Regions from separate parts of the Homo sapiens genome. Here region 1 is linked to region 2. The links come from fine-mapping of genetic effects on gene expression. Tissue or cell type: sigmoid colon. Region 2 holds a variant in brackets; the other region holds the start of a gene. All regions are shown on one strand. Distances are from middle to middle.

Region 1 (2,624 bases), 67 kb after region 2:
TCGGGGAGATGAGAGGATAGAGACGTGGTGGGGGTGGCGGAAGAAGAGAGGGAAATAGAAACTCAGCTGTAGAAAGGGCCAGGGAGCTGAAAGTAGAATGAAGAACGGCGAGGAGAAAGAAGAGTGCCCCCAGATGAGAGAGAAAGTCCCGATGCCTCCGGCAGGTCAGAGGGGAGGCCCTGCGGCTAAGCGGCGGGACGGGGTGTGCCAGCGTCTCACCTCGGCCTTTGCGCGGCATGGTCCGCAGCAGCCTGGTGTAGTGGCTGAGGTCGTCCTCGGCGAACTCCAGGTGGTCCACCGTAATATTGAGGCGGTCGCGGACCCGCATGAACAGCCCCTCCACGAGGAAGAAGCAGTGCTCTTCGTCACCCGGCCGGTAGGCGTAGAGCATGAGCGCTTGGCGCTCCCAGCCCAGCCGTCGGTGCAGCGCCGCCACGAAGTCCCCCAGCTTGGCGTAGCTGGGCCCCGCGCGGGTGGTCAGCGCATACTCGTCCTTGACACCGAAGCCCAGCGCCGGGGCGCCGGCGGTCAGCAGCGGGACCCGCCAGTGCGCGGTGAAGCGCCCCACTGGGGCGGCGGCGTACACGCAGCCGGGGCCCAGGAACACAGCGGGGTTGTGCTCCCACTTGAGGTCCACCGCGGCCAGGGGCGCTGCGGTGTCGGAGCAGACGCCCAGCGCGTTTTCGCTGCTGCCCAGCACCGTGCGGACCGTCCAGCCCGGCAGCAAGTCGGGGCGCGCCTTCACCTGGGCCAGGGCCAGCTCCACGGCGGGTCCCACGCGCGCCCACGACCAGGGGTACGAGGTATTGGCCAGCGGCAGTACCACGGCTACCGTCAGGTTGCCCGCGTGGCTGCCCCGGAGCAGCAGCAGCAGCGGCGGCAGCAGCAGGAGCAGGAGCAGGCGCAGGCGGGAGCCAGCGGGGCGCCGGGGCCCCGGCATGGCCTCAGCGGGCACCGCAGCAGGCGAGCGCTCCTACCATGGCCTCCTCGGTCCCCTTGGGCTCAGCGGCCGGTCCCAGGCATCAGGCGCGTCCCTATGGGAAGGAGCAGGAGCGGGACGGGGACGCTCACCCCGGGGCTCGAGGCCCCCTGTAGCTGCGACGGTCTGGGCCGAGAGCGCAAGGGGCGCGACCGAGGGGGGCGCGCAGGGCGCCGCGGAGCAGGTGGGTGCCAGGAGAACGTCGGGCTGGAGAGGACCCGAGTGTGAACAACTGGGAGTGTGCGTGCGTGTTAGAGAGAGAGAGAGAGAGAGAGAAAGGGTGCGAGTGAGCGCTTCGTGAAGAAGGATGAGAGAGGGCGCGCGAGGGAGGAAAGAGGAGTGTGTGTTTGTAGCGTGCGTGAGCGCCTGCCCCAGGGAGTGTGCCAGAAGGGGCGTCCGGCCGGCCCAAGTCTCCGGCTATCCGGAGGGAACCGTGGAGGACCCGAGCCAAGCTCCGAACCCTCCCTCCCAGCCGCTTCCCCTCCCAGACTCAGTGACAGAAGAGCCAATCCAGGATCTTTAACTCCTTCCTCCCCGCCGCCCAGCCCGCGCGCTTCCCCGTGGACCATCTTCCCCGGTCTCGGCCGCCCCACGCCTACCTCTTTGGAGGACAGGACCCTCTGAAGGTGCGCCCTCGCCGGGATGGAAAGGACGGCTGAACGGAGGGTGTGTGTGGAAGCAACCGGGGCCCACTTGCGCCCCACCTTTTCCCTCGCCTCCTACCTGGTCTCCTCGGGGGAAGAGGGAAAGGTGTGCTGGTTTGGGATCCTGGCAGGAAACTGAGTGAGTGCGTGGATGTGTGTGTTTGGGTGTGGGGTGGAAGGTGACGGGTTTCTGGAAAGTCCGTTAAAGTTGAAGGTGAGCCCAGAGTGCTTGTTACCCATTCCTTCTATGATCTCCCTCTCTTTCCCTCCCTGCCACCTTCCAGACTGTGCAGATTAGCTGTGAAAAAATGATCTGGTGTCAGAGAGGAATTAAATCTTTAGCGCCCAAATTGTAGGAAGATGGGGAGAGTGGGTGGGTGTCTGGGAGGGAGGAGGTTCACACCTCAGGGACGCCCCAAGAAAATGACTGTTTTGTGTTGAGGGTTGTTAAAATGAAGGCTGTGGGAGATGACCACTGGAGGCGTAAATTGGGGAGTGGGTTTTGGAGCACTTGACAGCTGGGCCCCCGGTGCAGACTGCTGTGGAATCAGTGTGCCCTCTAATGGTCATCGGGGGTTATTGACGGCATTGCAGCGCCAACCTCTCCAACGCTGCGCCTAAGCAGGACATAAGATCACCAAACTTCAGGTCAGCAAACATTTCCAGAGAACCTTCGGTGCATTAAGCACCCACTAGGTGCCGAGGGCATAAAGATGAATATATATAGTCCGTGCCTTTGAGGAGCTCCATTTGGGACAAATAACCGTAATGCAACATGCATTAAGCACTACAGGGGAGACATGGATAAATTGCTAAAGGACTCAGATGAGGGCTATTCATTCTGCTTGGATTGGGGCCAGAAAATCTCCAAAAAAGAAATAATTCAAGAGGATGGAAGGATGAGAAAGGTATTCTGTGTAGACAGAGCAGAATGTTGAAGTACATTTCCTATATATGGAATTTTAGGAGACTTGAATATTCTTATTATCTAGAGCAAATTG
Region 2 (2,500 bases):
ATTGTCTCTATGTAGTCTCTGGGCTCTCCTCCTTTCTTCTTTATGCTCCTGCCATCAAACTCACCTGCAATCTGCTTCATAAACGTCATACAAACACCATCGGCTCCCAGAACCCCACTCTTCACCAGTTCCCGTACCAACCACACCAACTAAAGGAAAGAGGGAAAAACAGATGAAGAGCAGGAACTGTGAGTTTGAGAAGGGAGCTAATTCAATTACAACTGAAAGGAGCACATTACAATTTAGACACACAATGATAGGGGTGTGTTAGCCCTGATTCCTCTTTCCCGTTCCTGACAGAGAGAAGATCCATCCTCTCTCTTTGAGCTGGATCTTGTCTTTTCTTTCTGGCCTTACCTGAGTACGGCAGGTATCCTGCAGCTTCAGGTACTTCTCCATAAGTATCTGGTTGATTTTATTCAGGACAATATTCATGCCATCACGACTCACCAGAGCTAAGTCCCGGTAACACTGTGAGAAGTAAAGTTTGTGATCAGCCAGCAAGCTGAGGATAAGGTCCTCACCCCACCCACAGTGGACCCCTTGCCCTCTAATCCCTTAAACTTAAATAACACCAATAAGACACCGAGTAGCAATGAAATACTTTTCATTCTGGACACTTTCTTTCCACAGGGGTCCTGCATTCCCAACCTATCCCTTGTTCTGTCACACAGAGTGGGGAAAAGGTACTGGTTATCCTTTAATGAGGCAGAAAAGCCTGCTGGGCAGCCAGGTGCAGTGGCTCACGCCTGTAATCCCAGCACTTTGGGAGGCCAAGGCGGGTGGATCACGAGGTCAGGAGATCGAGACCATCCTGGCTAACACGGTGAAACCCCGTCTCTACTAAAAATACAAAAAAATTAGCCGGGCACGGTGGCGGGCACCTGTAGTCCCTGCTGCTCGGGAGGCTGAGGCAGGAGAATGGTGTGAGCCCGGGAGGCGGAGTTTGCAGTGAGCGGAGATCGCGCCACTGCACTCTAGCCTGGGTCTAGCCTGGGCGACGGAGCGAAACTCTGTCTCGGGGGCAGGGGAGAGAAAAGCCTGCTGGGCAAGGCTCCTAGTACTATCCCTGTCCCCCCCACTTCCCATCTTAGGAAGTGTCATACTGTTTGATGCCACAGGCTGAGCAAAACCAGGTGGAGGCCATCTGCTTTTCA[C/T]CTGCCAGTCAGTAAAAGGTCACTGCAAAATGGGTTTGGTTGAACAAGCCAAAAAGGATCCCAAAGAGGTTTTTAGACCAGTACTGACCCAGTCAGATACAGCAAAGGGAGTAGTAAGGGAAGAAGATCCAGGGCAGGGCCCTAGACAGTTAAGGACAGAACCAAAACTGATATTTTTTTGAATTTTTAGTTTTTTTATACTTGGGGTCTTACTTTGTTGCCTGGGCTGGAGTGCAGTGGCATGATCATAGCTCATTGCAGCTTCGAACTTCTGCGTAGCTGGTACTACAGGCATGCACCACCACGCCCAGATAATTTTTAAAACAGTTTTTTCTAGAGACAAGGTCTCACTATGTTCCCTAGGCTGAAACTCTTGGCCTCAAGTGATTCTCCCACCTCGGCCTCCTCAGTAGCTGGAATTACAGGCATGAGCAACCATACCCAGCTGAACTAAATATCTTTATTCTTTTCTCTGTGATGCCCTTTCCTTCTGCCACTTATTGAAAAAGGAAAGGTGCTTTAGCATACCAAATCCTGGGGGAGGTAAGGGAGGGCATGCTAATTTCTTCTGTGAGATTATTGCTTCCCTTCCCCCCTTAGTTTTTTTTTTTTTTTCACTCTGTCTCTATTGTGAGACCAGACTCCTGGAGGAATACCTTAGGGGGCCTCATTAGCAACTTCCTTAGCCTGCTGAGTTCTATCCCGTCAGGATCTCATCAGAAAGAGTAGAAACTAGGCAGGTAGCTTCCCACAACCTCTGAAGACCAGTAGCAAGGATGGCATCAAAAATAATAATCATATAGTATAGCAAGGGCCGGGTATGGTGGCTCATGCTTGTAATCCCAGCACTATTTGGGAGGCCGAGGCGTGTGGATCATCTGAGGTCAGGAGTTCGAGACCACCCTGGCCAACATGGTGAAACTCCATCTCTACTAAAAATACAAAAATTAGCTACGTGTGGTGGCACGTGCCTGTAGTCCCAACTACAAGGGAGGCTGAGGCGGGAGGATCACTTGAACCCAGGAGGTGGAGGTTGCAGTTAGCCAAGATCGTACCACTGCACTCCAGCCTGGGTGACAGAGACACCCTGTCTCAAAAAAAAAAAAAAAGTACAGCAAGGATGTTGTTATACTATAGCAAGCAATAATACAGCAAGGATGGCATCAACAACAATAATATATATATATGTATATATTACTGCATTTGATATACATAACAACCTTTTAAAATAGTACTACTTATTATAATTATTTTTACAGATGAGGAAATAGGCATGGAGAGCTTAAAAGTTATTTGCCCCAGATGACATAAGAGATTAGAGGAAGAACCAGGATTCAAATCCA

Direction of the effects. Positions count from the first base shown, and alleles are read on the strand shown. Sizes are in standard deviations (SD) of each study's normalised expression.
With allele T in place of C in region 2, the expression in sigmoid colon of the gene that starts at base 1,361 in region 1 is higher (small effect, 0.19 SD a copy in GTEx).

What was found. PIP is the estimated chance that this variant, and not a neighbour inherited with it, causes the effect.
Region 1: it holds the start of NPR1, and the variant in region 2 is fine-mapped to the expression of NPR1 in sigmoid colon (GTEx, PIP 0.97).

What each region holds. Positions count from the first base shown.
Region 1 is chr1:153,677,425-153,680,048 of GRCh38, reverse strand. NPR1 (natriuretic peptide receptor 1) reads right to left here and starts at 1,361. Exons shown (of 22, transcript NM_000906.4): 1 at 220-1,361. The coding sequence starts at 940. RefSeq lists a silencer at 561-620 and enhancers at 162-1,142, 1,143-2,124.
Region 2 is chr1:153,744,928-153,747,427 of GRCh38, reverse strand. INTS3 (integrator complex subunit 3) reads right to left here. Exons shown (of 30, transcript NM_023015.5): 4 at 358-471; 5 at 65-149. Among named protein-coding and RNA genes, the nearest start is that of INTS3, 18 kb to the right of the region's middle. RefSeq lists enhancers at 1,174-1,913, 1,914-2,500. The variant C/T (reference allele first, on the strand shown) is at 1,158.